Regions from separate parts of the Homo sapiens genome. Here region 2 is linked to region 1. Evidence: fine-mapped expression QTL. Tissue or cell type: coronary artery. Region 1 holds a variant in brackets; the other region holds the start of a gene. All regions are shown on one strand. Distances are between the middles of the regions.

What was found. PIP is the estimated chance that this variant, and not a neighbour inherited with it, causes the effect.
Region 2: it holds the start of ACAD9, and the variant in region 1 is fine-mapped to the expression of ACAD9 in coronary artery (GTEx, PIP above 0.99).

The regions. Positions count from the first base shown.
Region 1 is chr3:129,613,940-129,622,101 of GRCh38, reverse strand. It overlaps LOC124909431 (a long non-coding RNA gene), which reads left to right and starts at 6,301. Exons shown (of 2, transcript XR_007096079.1): 1 at 6,301-6,402. RefSeq lists an enhancer at 6,882-7,176. The variant C/GC (reference allele first, on the strand shown) is at 4,321.
Region 2 is chr3:128,874,984-128,883,145 of GRCh38, reverse strand. It overlaps ACAD9 (acyl-CoA dehydrogenase family member 9), which reads right to left and starts at 3,526. Exons shown (of 18, transcript NM_014049.5): 1 at 3,305-3,526. The coding sequence starts at 3,454. It overlaps ACAD9-DT (ACAD9 divergent transcript), which reads left to right and starts at 3,710. Exons shown (of 3, transcript NR_186174.1): 1 at 3,710-4,010. RefSeq lists enhancers at 2,100-2,951, 3,260-3,339, 2,952-3,804, 3,400-3,949, 3,805-4,656.

The DNA of each region.
Region 1 (8,162 bases):
GGTCAGGGAGGGCACGGATGGGGAGGGGAGGGGTCAGGCAAGGCAGGGCCAGCAGTAGCGAAAGACTGATGTGCCGTGCTCCTTCCTGCCTCTGGGTCTTTGCACATGCTGTTTCCTCCTCTCCCTGCCTGAACTACTGCATCCATTGGCAGCTCCGGTGCCTCTTTGAGGTTAGGCATCACCTCCTCCAGGAAGCCCTCTCTGACCTCCCTGCACCGAGGCTAAACTGCTGGTGGCCTCTTCTTGCTCTCATGAAGTTGCATTCCATCTTCCCCTGTGCACTGGGCATACTGGCTTATGGCCCCCTCCTCTGCTGAGCCAGCACCCAGCACCGGGCTGAAGACGGCCCTTAGTGGACAGCTGAGCCGAGCATGGAAAGGGACGCTAGTGTGATGACCCCTCCGCAGTCCTCACTGCCTGCTCAGGAGTCTCCATCTGGGGGTGGGAGGTGCAGATGCGGAGAAAGCAGAGGGGAGAGTCAAACTTACACAGGAGGGCCAGGGGGTGGGGGACAGTGGCACAGAAGGAGTGTGGGTGGGACAGCCCACAGGGCTGGACTCGGATGATTCTGGCTGTGTGGCCTTGGGCAGTGAGTTTGCTTGTCAGCCTCAATTTCCTTCTCTGATACATGGGGATAACAGCAACGCCCGGCAAAACTGACCCGGCCAGTCCCGGCGTGAGGCCTGGCGGGCCTTTGCTTAGCAAGGGCAGGAACTGGGGTTGGTGCTGGGCGGGTGGGGTCTCGTGGCTGGGAGGGTCTAGGGCACAGGAGCACAAGCAGACCCACAGATTGCATCAATCATCCCCCACCATTCAACTCCCGGTGCTGAAAATAGCGCCACCCCCAACTCTTGCCTTCTCCCAGCATCCTCCCCAAGGGGCCTGGGGTCACACAAATGGAAGTGAATTATGGGCAGTGGGGATTCAGACCTGCTGTAAATTACACGTGGCTGCAACTGCTAAGAGCCTTTTCCGGGGCTTATCATTTAACCTCTCAGCTCCTCCCCAGTCACACTGGGCCTAGCATTGGGTGGGCACGAGAAGGTCCCAAGGGTCAGGGCTCCGTCCTGGGCTTCCTATGCCCAAGCCCCATGCATGGCCTTGAGGTCTGGTGAGGAGACTGGGGCTAGAGTGGGTGAGAGGAGGCAGGCGGAGGCAGCTCCTGCTTCAGCACCTGCACGCTTCTGTCTGGATGGGGATAAGCACCTTGCACTGTGGAGGGTAACTCGCAGATGGGGACACTAACCAGGGTATTCCCTTCCCCTACCTTCCCCATCATTCTGCAGCATGTGCTGACACTAACACCAATGTCCATCAGATAGTGGCCAGAGTTTCCCGGGGTCACAGCTGTACCTCCCTGTAAAAATCCAGGTCCCCCAACCCATCGCTTTCCCCTCTGCTTTTTGTTTTGGAGACAGGGTCCCGCTCTGTCACACAGGCTGGAGTGCAGTGGTGCGATCATAGCTCATTGAACTGTGGACCTTCTGGGCTCAAGCAATCCTCCCACCTCAGCCTCCTGAGTAGCTGGGACCACAGGCATGTGCCACCTCGTTCTGCCTCCATGTTTTTTTTAACAGAAATAATACATATTCTTTGAGGAAAACTTAGAAAATTCAGACACAAAAAAAGAAAAACTTCAAAACTGGCTGGGTGCAGTGGCTCACGCCTATAATCCCAGCACCTTGAGAGGCCAAGGATGGGGATCACTTGAGGCCAGGAGTTTAAAACCAGCCTGGGCAACATCACGAGACCCCCGTCTCTACATAAAATTTTTAAAAATTTAAAAACAAACTCTACCACCCCCCAGCCGCCCTACCCTAGACTAGAGGTCATAACCCAACAATGCTCCTGTGGGTCTGTCCTGTGTGGTCCTGCCTCTCCTTGGCCCCATGTCCTGGGTCTGCCCACCCTCGGTGGCCAGGCCTCAGGGTGCCCATCTAGTTGCACAGCCCATCCAAGCCCAGATCCTTTTGAGGCAGAGGTTTCCCAGCTCTGGCACCAAAAGGGAAGTGAGAATGGAGAGGCAGCAGTGGTGGTGACATGGGTCCAGCTGAGGATGTGAAGGTGCCCCTGAGCTGGGCTGCCCGTGGCTGGCCTGCACCGCCTCTTTTCTGGGATGGAGGCTCCCTGGGTGCTGCTCCCCTGCTGCCCGGCCAATTCTATCCTTGGGGTCCCTGGAGCCCCGGGTTGTGATGCAGGGAAGAAGAGGGACCCTGGTCCCCAGAGACTCCCCTGAGCCCCCTGCCCAGGCAGCCCCTGGCTTTGACTCAGTCTGCCCAGCCAAGCCTCTCGAGTGAGGATGGGGAAATTGAGGCCTGGCGGGGAAGGGGAACCTGGCTGGCCCTGTTTTCAGATAGAGACTGAGCCAGGACTAGAACCTTGGCCTGGCAGGTCTGTGCCCCCTTCCCTGAGCCTGCTCCAGACTTGGTGGTGGCTGCCTCTGGAGCAGTTTTGGAGTCCCCTGGGCCTCCTGTACCCCCTGAGGCTTAGAAGCCAGAGAGATCTCCATGACCACACAGAGCTGGGTTCAAGGCCTCTCTTTGGCCTTCTGGAAAACGGGGCCAGGGAGAGCCTCTGCTCATGTGCTCATGTGGACAGTGAATGAGATCACAGCAGGCCCGGCCTGTGCAGTGGCCCAGGACGGGTGTCCACTGGGTTGGAGGGTTTGGGCTGGAGGCTGTTCCTGGTGGGCCCCAGGTGTGGCAGGACAATGGGCCTGGTGGCTGCATCTGTGCTGACGAAACCGGCTTCCGCAGGGGCCCCACAGGGCTGCCTGTTTTGCTGGGGAGAGGGTCTTCCCTCCTATCCTCTTCCTCTAGGCCTCCTTCCTGCCACCCTGGGTGGTGGTCCAGCCTTCTGTGCAGGTCTCAGCCGTCTCGCCCATAGTGCCGGCGGCCGCCTGCCCCTGTTCTGACTCACTTCCTACTTCTGGGAGCTGGAAATAGCCTCCCCTGGATGGTGGGACAGGCCGGGGGCTCTACCCCCACCCTGTGCTCACAGGTGGAGGAGCATCCGCCTGCAGTGTCTGGCCCTCAGGTCCCAGCGGTGGACGGGACAGAGGAGGACCCTGCCCTGTGCCATCTGCAGACGTTAATCAAACGACACAGCTGCCGTGCAGAGCACATGAGGACGGCTGAGCCACCGGGGCAGGCGGGGTGCAGCCCTCAGCCGGAGGACCCTTGAGCTGAGCCGGATGCATGGGGTGTTTATGGGCTGGGGGGAAGTACAGGTGGTCGCAGGCGAGGGGGACGGTAATGACGAAGGCCTGGTGGGAGGCAGTAGGAGCGCAGGTATGACTGGAGTGGGTGGGGCCGCCATGGAGATGGGAACCTGGGCTAAGGGACCTGGCTTTACCCTGAGAGCGTTTGCAGGACTTGAAGTTGGAGAAAAACAACACAACCAGATTTGCAGCTTGAAAATGTCCCACAGGAAAAGTGATTTGAGGAGAGGAAGGGAGGAGGGCAGCAGAGAGAGGAAGTGGGAGGGGAGGTCCAGGCGGGAGGTGACGGCTCAGACGGGTACAGTAGTCTTGGGGCTAAAAGGGACAAACTGACTAGGGGACTCGGGGACTTCTGGGCCTTTAGTACTCAGAGTCTAAGCAGGGGTGATTGGGAAGCAACCTCTGGACAGGTGGGAGGAAGGGACGGGGCATCCAGGTGCCTCCCGGGTTCTGCCTTGGGCAGCTGGGTGGGGTGGTGGACTGGGGACATGCAGGGTGGGACTGTGGGGGATCTCAGCCTCGGTTTAGGACACTTACTTGCATTTGAGCCTCTAGCCCTGCCACTGCCACAGCCCCCCATTCACATTTTGGGGGACACACATTGGGGTGGGCGGCAGGCCGCGGGTGACAGAACACCATCTACAACTTACAAGGGATCGAGGAAGACACTGACGTGGGCTCAGAAGGCCCCAGGAGCTGCCACCCCCAAGGCCGCAGGACTTGTTGGTGAAAGGATGCCCTCCTCTGCCTGACCACCCTCATGGTTGTCTCACCTGCCTTCCCTGGGGTCTCCTGCCTCTGCCTCCCCCTCCCACAGCATCTCCCGCCATGTGCTGAGACAACAGCTCCCAGCCCAGCACCCTCCTCGGCCCCCATCTCACTGAGGGTGCCTGTCAGGGTCCTCACAGTGGCCTCAGGAAGCATTAGCTGCATTGACTCCAAAAGTATGTTTCCACCTCAGACCTCGTAGTCTTGATTCAGCCATGCCCTGGGGGCTGTGCCAGGGATGACTGGGCTCCTGTGAGCCGCCAAGGTGCAGCCTCACCCCAGACTTGCAGATGGGAAAAAGGCTCTGTCCAAGGTCCCACCGTGCAGAGGGG[C/GC]AAAGCTGGATTTGAACCCAGATCCTTCTGGCTCCACAGCCTCCTATGTTGCATGGGGACCCCAAAGTGCCTCCTCCTGCCCGCCAGGGGCTGTGAGCTGGGGGAATGGAGGTGAGACTGGCATGACTGTCCTGTACATCTCATCCCAGCTAAGTCACGTCCTCCCTGGAAAACCTGTATTTTAGAGACACAAACCCTTCTCGGGCCAGGGTGTGGGTAGCCACCTTCCCTGACAGGTGGGTGAGTGGCAGGTGGGGATACCGCAGGAGGCCAGGGGAGAAGGTCAAAGCTGCCTCCCCGTTGGCTGCCCTGGAGGCTACACAGGAGTGGGCACCAGCCCAGAAGATGTTGGGAGGACGTTCATTCATCTCCTCTCTCATTTGTTCCTTCATGTGTTCATTCACTCTCGTGAGCCTGCTTAGAGTTTAACCTTCTGCCTAGTGATGGGGGGACATAGGTATGTTCCCAAAAGACTTAGCTCTTCAGATGCCTCCTGGTTGGCAGAGGAGCCAGAGCAACAGAGACAGCATCACCTGGTGTGGGTGCTTGGATGGTGGGAGTCCAGGGTACTGTGGGGGTAGAGGAGGAGGAAGCCTAACCCAGCCTGTGAGAGCTGAGAAGGCTGCCTGGAAGAGGAGCAGCCAGATCCAAATCTTGGAGACACCAGGAGACTTATCCAGGGGGAGAAGGCAGGAGGGAAGTTCAGGGGCCTGGTAGGACTGAATCCCACACTGACAAGGGGACTCGGGGACTTCTGGGCCTTCAGGACTCAGAGTCTAAGTAGGAGTGGGGAAGTCACAGGGGAAGCCACAGGGGAAAGAGGGTGGCTCATCCCGAGATACCCAGCTGTCGTTCTCGTAAGGCTGCTCTTGAGTAAGGAGGGATGATGTCACCCAAAACTCCCTAAAGAACTGGTCCCAAGTTCCTCCGCAGAGAGGACTCTGGCCAGGGAAATCCAGAGTGAGTGTTACTCACAGGCTGGGCTGCCCTAGCTTAAGGGCTGATCCCCCCAAGGCCAGAAGCTGGACCACTCAAGGTTGGAGGCTAGACCACCTCAGATCAGAGACTGGATCATCCAGGGCCACCCAAGGTCAGGCCGAGGCCTCCAAAGCAGAGATCTGGCTCTTGGAGATTGACTATAAAATCGCATGTTTCATGAAGAAGCCCTCATTCAGCCACAGGGCATCAGGACCTGTCAGAGGCCCTGACAGAAAAGGTCCCGATAGCCTCCAAGGCCCAAATCCCCAGCGTGAACCACAGACCCTGGGCCCCGGCAGGCCTTGGCTCCCAGCCACAGCCCTCGTGCAAGTCCACTCCATCAGCCTGTTGCCCATGCAGACCTTGGCTTGTACAGCCACCTCCACCACATACCAGGAATTCCCATGTGTGTGCATGTGACCCCAATATGCACCCCATGCACACGAACACACATTATACCCCTCCTCACATGCACGGCACCCCATCTTTGCACAGACCACCCCCTCATGCCCACATGCACACACACAATGGGGTATCCCTGAGACAGGGGCTTTCACAGGCTGGTACAGGCTGTGCAAGAAGCTCACTACAGGGCGGGACCCCTAATGCCTCTCTCTTGGTGGCTGGGAGCTGGGCCAGTGTGCTGCGGCCCATGTGCTGTGGCCCCTGCCCTTCCTGGACAGCTCTGGGAAGGTTCTTCCCCCTTCAGAGCCATCAGCCTGGGGTGGCAGCTTCCACTTCTGTGAGCGTGCACAGATAAACAATCCCTGTGGTGGCTGCCAAGGGGAACCCGCACCCAGTGGAGCCCCTGTGCCCAGAGGCTGGGCTGGTGGTTGGGACCCTCTCAAAGTTAACACCCCCAAGAACGAGCCCTGGATCCTCCACCAGCCTGCTGCTGGCCTCTCACCCTCCTCTGCTCGCCTCTCACCCTCCTCTGCTCTGCCCACACGGGCCTCTGTCCTCCAGGGCTCCGCCCTTGCTGTGCCCTGCCTGGAAGGCTCTCTTCACCCTCCTGACTCTGCTGCATCCTGCAGATCTCAGCCCCAGGGGCCCGAGGAAGATGGGCTGGAGTCCCCTTGGGAGAAACTTTTCCAGAACCACCTGGTATGGCTCCTTTGTAAGATGGGTGGCTCTTTGTGGTTGTGTAATTATTTGAGTTATTTGGTTAAAGATTATTTGCCCCCTGGGGTAGGGCTGAAGACAAGGACCATGCTTGTGGGCTCACTATGATATCCCAGTGCCTGGCACATAGTAGGTGCTTAGTTAAGGGTTCTTTCTGAAGGAAGGAGAAAGGAAGGAAGAAGGGAGGGAGGGAGGGAGGGAGGGAGAAGAATGACCCTCAGTGTTCTATTCCGCCCAGGGTTTTGCTTGTGTGTCATGAGATGAGGGACAGGACCCTCAGAACTCCACCAGGAATCAGGTGTGAACGGTCACCTTGAGGGCCAGTGGGTGTCCCAGATGAGGCAGGAGGTGCAGGAGGGCTGATGTGGCCTGCTCTTATGAGGGGCAGTCAGTAGGGCCAATGGACAGTGGGGACAGGGAGGTCGCTTTGGCAGCATCTGCCTGGCACTGCCCAGGGAGGGGGTCTCCAGCAGCCAACATGACCATCCTGCCTGCTGGGGGGGCATGTCCTGGGGTGGTGCTGGCAGCCATCTGCCCAGCCCAACATTTATTAGTAGTGATCGTGTGTTCCACCCTGGAAGCGCTCCCAGTGCACTGGGGAAGTCACGTGCCCTCGCACTGGGTGATATGAGGTTTGATAGGAGGAGCTCTAAGTGGGTGGAGGAACTCCTAATACTGCTTTGAGGCTCAAGGAAGTCTTCTCAGAAGGTCTTTAGACTAGGTCTTGAGGGAGGCCTAGGAGTTCACTAGGAAAGACTTTCCAGAGAAGGTGAAATTGGGTTGGGTCTTGAGGGATACAAAAAGTTCACTCAGAAAACAAGAGAGGAAACACCTTTTCTGGACACTGGGTTCTCTCTAGGGGCTCATGTAGGCCATCAGACCAGTAAGACCACAGTATTCCGGGACCCTGCTCACCCATGCCAGCCTCTCCTGTACGCCCTGTGTGTGACCGTATGGGTGAGGGCCCCTCCACTGCCCCATCCTAGAGCGGTTGGGATTGTGCCAGTGTGGAGTGTGCTCGGCACACAGCAAGTGCTTGGTCGGAGTGGGCTCTCAGAATCGTGCAGCTGGTCCGAGGTGGGGCCATGTCTAGGGTCTGCAGCTTGCATACTCGTGACAGGCACTCACCCTGCTGCAGGCAGCCCTTCCTTCTCCAGACCCAGCAGCAGTTTCAAAAGATGAGTGGGGCCTTGTCAGTCCCCACTGAGTTGGCTGGAACCAAGTGGTGAGGTTGGGGCCACTGGAAGGGAAAGGCCTGGTCGGGAAGCAGGCTCACCTGGATTTTAGCTCACACCTGCCCGGCCTCCCTGAGGCTTCCAAGGATGGCTTCATTCCCAGCCAGGTCTCTCAGGAAGCATGGAAGGTGAGAAAACAGTTCTCAGAAGTTTACTGGGGCATAAAGGGAGCCAGGAAGCCTTACAGGGTGGAAACGGGTCTGAAGTGGGGTGTATGTGCCAGCCCAAGACTTAAGAGAACCCCTTGGGGCCCATTGGCACTGGGGCCTGGGGCCATGGAGACTCAAGTTCATTAAGAACAGGACTCAGGCCGGGTGCGGTGGCTCACACCTGTAATCCCAGCACTTTGGGAGGCCGAGGCAGGCAGATCACGAGGTCAGGAGTTCGAAACCAGCCTGACCAACATGGCAAAACCCTGTCTCTACTAAAAATACAAAAATTAGTCGGGCGTGGTGGTGTGTGCCTGTAATCCCAGCTACTCGGGAGGCTGAGGCAGGAGAATCGCTT
Region 2 (8,162 bases), 740 kb after region 1:
CTGCACTCCAGGGTGGGCAACAGAGTAAGACACTGTCTCAAGGAAAAAAAAAACAAGAAAAAAAAAAAAAAACAAGCTGATGGCTCCATCACTCTGCAGCCTTTTATATCAAAGCTCAGTCTCCTTCACTGAACACAGAGGCTCACTGACACTTGGGTCTTGTGCAATGGGCTGTGTTAGAGATCATTCTGGTACCAGTGGGCAGGCCAGATAAGACTGCCTGGCAACTAATTGGCCTTCAGGTACAACCACAGAAAACCTGCCACACAGGAGAGATTGCAGGGGCGTGGGAGAAAGATCCTGATGTTATCAAATCAGGTCAATGCCTTAGGGGAGGAGAGTTCAATTGCAATAAACAGTTTGTAAATTATCTAAAAAAGTGGAACCTGTTATTCAAAGAAATCTAGTGCAGAAACCAAATATGTAAAACAGACAGAAGCAGGCGGCTCTGACTGAGACTGCTGATAGGGAAAACAGGCACCCAAATCCCACCCACTCAACTTCCCACCCATCCCTGCAGCAGTTCCAGGACACTCCATGAATAGCTTGGGTCCAGCTTAGGGCAGGGTGACAACCACTGGCCTACACAATCTGAGATTCTAAGCATCATGTCCCATGTTTCTGCTCTAATCCCAGTAAGGCTGTGAGAGATGACACTGGCCTGATCCAAAGTAGCAGCAGAAGGGCCTAAAAGTGGTCAGATTCTAAGAACCTAAAAGTAGAGAAAACCAGATCTTCTGTGGAATTAGAAGTGGACTAGGAGAATAAGAGTACAAGGTGACTCCAGGTGTTCTGTTTGAACAGGTGGAACAACAGAGCCACCATTATCTATGATAAAGAAGGCTGGTGGAAGGAGCAGGATTGGGTGGGAACCAGGAACTCAGTTTGGGATCTATTAATCTCAAATGCCTGTTAGACCTCTTAGTACAGCTTTTGAGTACAAAGGTAGATTAAAAAAAGAATCTTGGCTGGGTGTGGCAGGGCGTGCCTGTAGTCCCAGCTACTGGGGATGCTGAAGTGGGAGGATCTATTGAGCCTTAGGAGTTCAAGGTTGCAGTGAGCTATGATGGCACCACTGCACTCCAGCACAGGTGACAGAGAAAGCCCCCAACTCTGAAAAAGCAAAAGGAATCTGGAGTTCAGGGAGAAATCTGAACTGAAGAAAGAAACTTGAGGCATCAGGATATTGATGATATTTAAAGCCAGGACACTAAATAAGGTCACCCAGCAGATGGCTGTAGATGAAACGAGACCCAGCCTTAGTAAATTCCAACTTGGCTAGTTGGAAACACTGGTCACTGTTTAGCGGTCAAGGAGCTGAATAAGAACCAGCAATGGACACAGAGAAGTATCAGCCAGTGAAGTATTTAGAACATTCAGAGAATGGCGAGAACAGTGATTCAGAAACCAGAGACGAAAGTGCGTCAACAGGGTGGAAGGATGAACGGTGTCAGATGCCAATGATGGGTCAAGTAGGATGAGGTCTGAGAACAGATCACACAATTTGATAACAGAGAGGTCATTACTGACTTCTATGGCCATTAGGGACAAATGCCTGAATGGTAAGGGCTCAAGATCCAGTAGAGAGAACAGTTAATGATGCAGAGAAAGGAAAGAATTACCCTTGAGTAGGTGAGAAGACCTGGAGTCTAATGAGAGGTTGGTTTTGCCAGGAGCAGACAGTTCACAGTAACAGAATGTAGATAATACCGGCACATATGCAGCGGGAGGGGGTAACTGTGCCTGTGAACTTCTCATCCGACTGCATGGATTTTCCCAGTGGAATGGGAAGCAAAGCTGACAGCTGAGAGTAAAGGCAGGGCAGGGCAGGTAGTGCCAGAGGTTTAAAGATGGAAACAGATCTGAAAGATCTGTGTTCTTTCTTCACCATGCTGCTGGATAGCAGGAAGTCCCAGGATAGAGCACCACACTGCCCCAGGTCCTGGGTAAAAGGTTTTCCAATATGTTCAAGACATAGCTCCGCACTTTCTAGCTGGGCAAACTGCTTTTAGTCTGAGTCTTAGCTTCTTCATCTGTAAAGTTGCTTGCTATAAAGGTATCAGCCTGACAACCTCAGAGGAACGTTCCAAAGAGAAGCCAGGGAATAACTTCTGTGATACAGGATCAGCCAACATTCAGCCAAGTTCAAAGTAGGGCACCTCGACGAAATAGCAAGTATACTGTTGGTTTCCTTAGAAGATAAAATGAAATACAAAGGAAAGAGCAAGAAATGTGTTTATTCCTATTTTGTAGATGAATGCACTGAGGCACAGGGAGGTGCAGCCGTCAGCTCCAAGGTCACAAGACTAAGTGTTGAAGCCAGCTCTCTCTTCTGCTGCACAGTACTCTACAGTTTAAGAAGACTCTCCATGCACCGTTTATCTCACTGGGGCTCTACAACACATCTGTGAAGGAGACACAACACTATCTCCATTTTAAGGCTGAAAGAACTGAGTCTTGGCCGGGCGCGGTGGCTCACCCCTGTAATCCCAGCACTGTGGGAGGCCGAGGTGGGCGGATCACCCGAGGTCAGTTCTAGACCAGCTTGGCCAACATGGTGAAACCCCGTCTCTGCTAAAAATACAAAAAAAAAAAAAGCCGGGCAGGCGCCTGTAATCCCAGCTACTCCGGAGGCTGAGGCAGGAGAATCGCTTGAACCCAGGAGGGAGGTTGCAGTGAGCACTCCAGCCTGGGCGACAAGAGCGCGACTCTGTCTCAAAAAAAACAACTGAGTTTCAAAGTCAACGAGCCAAGACCAAACCCAAGTCTTCCAACTCTAAGAAGACAATGAGTGTTTTATAACCAAACTGTTACTATTGGCTGGGTTGTGCCACCCTTGGGAAGCATCTTGGAGCCAGATTTCTGAGGAACCTCAATGGCAGGGAGAGGCGCTGGGCTCACCTGGGGAAGGAAGCCCCAGGGCGCTGGAAGGTGACTGAGGAGGGACATGGTGTAAGCTGTTTAGGAATCAGAGAGGAAGCCCCGCACATTTCCAGACCAGACCAGCTGAGATGAAGGCTGCTTTGTTAATTACCTAGCCTAGAGTTTTCCGAATTCCCCTGACAAAATTTAGCTGGAACACGTCACCACCACATTTCCAAGGGTCCCCCGTCTTGGAAATGTCTCACCCTTTCTCTGGGAAGGTTTTCCTGGAACTCAGGAATCCGGAGTGTTAACACGCCTCGGCCGCAGGGTGTATCTCTCTGGCAGGTTTGGGGAATCTCACAAAGTTCAACACCAGTCTTGCAGCTGAGGGTGAAAAGCGGGAGCCAGACAGCAAGGGTTCGCCCAGGGCTCGCGTTACCTTCTTGATTTTGCCTAGGAAAAGCTCTTTGGCGAAAGCTCGTACAGGCGGGCTGGTGCGCAGTAGCCGCCGGTTCGCGGTAGAGACCACCAGACCCCGGCAGGCACGAGCCGCAGCCGTGGTGCGCAGGAAGAGCCCGCAGCCGCTCATGCTGCCCGATGTTCCCCAGCCTCAGCCTCAGTCTCCCCTTCTTAGCGCCGCAGGGACACACACACGTCTGATGACGTTACTGGCCCGCGACAACGTGCAGTACTCACTGCGCTTGCGCGGTCCCCCGCAGCAGGGGATGGAGAGGCCAGAAGGGCGGGAAGGCTACCACCTGCCGCGCCCAAGGCCTTAGTCACGTGCACCTGGCTGGCCCGCGCCGCCTGATGACGTCACACGCCTACGCTTCCCGCCGGCCCCACTGCGCTTGCGCGGCCAAAGGAGCTGGCCGGAGGAAATTGTAGGCCCTGGGCCGCGGGCATCTCGGCGGGTATAATCTCTGGCCGTCGTGACGGCGGTGACGGACCTGTTTTTCACATACCAGCGGTTGTTTCCATAAATGCCAGCCATGGGAAATCTCCCTGTGTACAGAAACCTAAAGGCCGGCTCAGCTGCCTCCACTTGTCTCTTTTGTCACTTGTGGCCACGAGGCCGTGGTAAAACTTGAGAAAAGCAAAAGAATGAGGGAAATGCGCTGTATTGGGGTCTCTGCAGGGGCACGGTAAGGGTAAGGGTCCATTTTTAACTGGATGGTGGATTCCTGAGATACTGTTTTGTTCCTAGTTGACATGTATGTTACATATATTTTTTGGAAAAGGAAAAGAAAGTGGGTGTTCAGTCACAGAGCGGTCTGGATACAACTGAGTCACCTCTGTCCTGGGAAACACTAACTTAAAAGGCAGGCGGAGGAAGAGAAACTACAGAGAGAGCTGAGAAGAGATGGGAACTATTGGATGGGATGGGACAGGCCAGGCTGTAACCGCCCAAGGTTACAGCCCGCTGACTAGACAGCTGATTTATCAAGACGGAAATTGCAATAGAGAGAGAGTAATTCACGCAGAGCCGGGTGTGTTGGAAAGGGAGTTTTATTAGCCAAATCGGTCTCCCCAAAAACGGATCGGAATTTTTAAGGATAATTTGGCGAGTAGAAGCTCGGGAAGTGGGAGGTGCATGATTGGTCGGGTTGGAGATGGACTGATAGGGGGCCGAAGTGAGTTTTTCTTGCTGTCTTCTGTTCCTGAATGGGATTGCAGAACTAGTTGAGCCAGATTACCAGTCTGGGTGTTGGTAGGTTTTACAACAGTGATGTTATTCCCAGGAACAATTTGGGGGACGTTCAGACTCTTGCAACCAAAGGCTGTATGGCCTCTAAACTGTAATTTCTAATCTTATAGCTAATTTGTTAGTCCTCCAAAGGCCAACTGGTCCCAGGCAAGAAGAGGTTGTTTTTTGTTGTTGTTGTTGTTGTTTTCCCGGGAAAGGGCTATTTTTGTTTTGAAGTTAAACTATAAACTCATTCCTTCCCAAGGTTAGTTCAGCCTACGCTCAGGAATGAACAAGGACAGCTTGGAGGTTAGAAGCAAGATGGAGTTGGTTAGGTCAGATCTCTTTCATTGTCTCGGTTATAATTTTGCAGTGGCGGTTTCAAGGCCAGGCCATAGGGGCCCACGTAGGAGGCAGGGCATGCCTGGCACCTCACAGCCCAACAGTGCTCTGAACGTGGCACATGGGCCCTCTACAGATCTTCAGCCAGCTCCTCCAGGAAGAATGCCACTCTGCTTTTTCACCCAGACCGGTAATCTGGCTCAACAAGTTTTGCAATCCCACCTAGGAACAGAAGACAGCAAGAAAAACTCACTTCAACCCCCTATCATTCCATCTCCAACCCAACCAGTCAGCACTCCCCACTTCCCGAGCTCCTACTCGCCAAATTATCCTTAAAAACTCCGATCCCTGTTTTGGGGGAGACTTGCTTGTTCCCCGACTGTAGCATTGACCACAGTGTTGGGAAATGCCTCCAGCTTCCATTGTGTCAACTCCTTGAGAAGAAAAAGAAATCCCTTTCATCTCAGCAAGCTAAGCTCAGCACCAAAAAAGATTACATTGCTAACACAACATCAAGAAAAAAGAGCTCAAAACTCTGCAAGGCGTAGAGTCTAAACTGCAAAATATTTGCAGGCATCTTTTCAGATTATTTTACCTTGTCTAAGGTCTCTCACCTGGTTTCTTCATCAGTGGTTGATATTTACTTGCTTAGCATTCAGCTTCACAAGAAGGTATTTGGAAACAACTGCCTTTGTAAATTATCCCCATAGGTAAAACAAAGAAAAATATACATATGTTGCAAAAACTGTTTCAATTTTGAGCTGCTGTACTTTTTTGCCAAACAAATGTAGTCAAATCAGTCAAGTACTCTGTTAATGTGTCAAATGTTTAGTGTACACAGGTCTCCCTAAATCAACCAAATGAGAAATCCAGTGGCACAGAATTTTACAAAACAAAAATTAGAAAAATGTTAAGGCATAGTTTCTAATTGCTCCAATAGAGTATAGCAGAAGAGTTTTGCTGTTTCACTACTATACTAGTTTCTAAATTCAGTTTCCTCATCTGTAAATATGAGTATGATACCCTTTATCTCACAGGACTTTTAAAAGGTTTAAGTAAATCCACATGAAAGCACTTAGCACAGCAAGTGATAAAAATGACAATAGTTACACTTTGATCCTTCCATCTTATATTTAAGTATTAGCCTCTGAGAAATATGATGTTGTTTTAAACAGTTTCCCCTGTTCAGTGTACTAAAAGAAAAACTTCAGCTGAATTAAATTTAAAGGAGCTTAATTGGCCGGGTCGGGTGCAGTGCCTCATACCTGTAATCCCAGCACTTTGGGAGGATGAAGTGGGCAGATCACTTGAGGTCAGGAGTTCGAGACCAGCCTGGCCAACATTGTGAAACCCTGTCTCTACCAAAAATACAAAAATTACTGGGCATGGTGGTGAGTGCCTCTAATCCCAGCCACTCGGTAGGCTGAGGCATGAGAATCACTTGAACCCGGGAGGTGGAGGTTGCAGTGAGCCAAGATTGCACCACTGCACTCCATCCTGGACGACAGAGCAAGACTCTGTCTCAAAAGAAAAAAAGTTTAATTGAGCAATCGATTCAAATCAGGCAGCTTTCTGAGCCAGAGCAAGCTCAGACACTCCAGCACAGCCATGTAATGGAAGATTTATGGACAGCAAAGGAAAGTGAGGTACAGAAACAGCTGGATTGGTTACAGCTCTGCCTTGCCTTATTTGAACATGGTTTGAACAGTTGGCTACATTTGATTGGCAAAAACTCTGTGATTGGCACAAGTATAGGCTACGGTCTGTTTATGCCTCCACTTATAGTTCACAATGTGCAGAAAACCTATAAGCCGAACTTAAAATATATAAGGAAGCAGCTTTAGGCTAAACTTGATTTAACAACTGTTTAAAATATCCTCATGGTAGTTCTGAATGTCTCCTCACATCAATACAACTGATTCACAACATAACTTAACAGAAAGTGAACATTCTTTAGCCATAATGTTAGTGTTAGCATAGCAGAATCCTTGACTCTGGGTATGAGGAACATTGAGTAGAAACTACTGCTTGATCCCTTACTATTAAAGCTGAGGCTGAGATTGGACTGATTATTTTACAAGCCAAAGACCACCAAACCATCAAAAGGTAGGAGAAAGGCTTTCCTGCAGATGCTGCTGCAAAGACCTGCCCCTTCCACCTTACACCACCATCCCCAAGGGCCTAGAGGCCTCTGCCTAGAGCTGGGGGAAGAGGAGACTGCGAAGAACGATCCCATCTTTTAAAAACCGGACAGAAATCACGGATTCCTTCCACTTACATTCCCTTGGGAAGAACTTAATTTGGGGGCAGGGGCTAGGAAAGGGAGTGCCTGGGCAGAAACGGTTTTGACAAGCGTTCGTATCAGGACAATTTGGGAAAACCCAGGTGAGTGATTACTGAGTGACCCTCGACTCCGGTGTTTTGACACCAAAATGTGCAAGGCTTCCTCTCTGATTCTTAAACATCTCAGGCCATGCCGCTCCCATGTCACCCTCTAGTGGCCTGTGGGCTTCCTTGCCAGCTGAGCCCTAGCCCTACCCCCGCCTTTGAGGTTCCGCAGAAATCTAGCTGCAGGGTGACTTCCACAGGTCTCACAACCCAGCCAATAGTAACAGCTAGGTTATTAAACACACCATCCTCTTAGAGGTGAAAGGCTTAGCCTTGGGTTCAATTCATTCAGCTTTAAAATGGAGCTAGTGATTTGTCTCACTTGAAGATGTTGTAGAGCCCAGTGAGATATGTAGTGCATGGAGATTGGAAGGTACTGTGCAGCAGAGGACATGGACAGTGCAGGCTCAAGAAGATCTTGTGACCTTGAGCAAGTCACTTTTCCTCCCTGTTCCTCAGTGTGCTCATCTACAAAATAGGAGTAAACACAGTAGCGTTTCCCCCTTCCTAGGGGTGCCTTGTTTTCAGCTTGGCTGAATGTTGGCTGATCCTGTATCACAGAAGTTATTCCCTGGCTTCTCTTTGGAACATTCCTCTGAGGTTGTCAGGCTGATCCCTTTATAGCAAGCAACTTTACAGATGCAGAAGCTAAGACTCAGACTAAAAGCAGCTTGCCCTGCTAGGAAATGCAGAGCTATGTCTTTAACATATGGGAAACCCTTTTACCCAGGACCTGGGGCAGTGTGGTGCTCTATCCTGGGATCTCCTGCCTCCCAGCAGCATGGCGAAGAAAGAACACAAATCTTTCAGATCTGTTTCCATCTTTAAACCTCTGGCACCACCTGTCCTGCCCTGCCCTTTCTCTCAGCTGTCAGCTTTG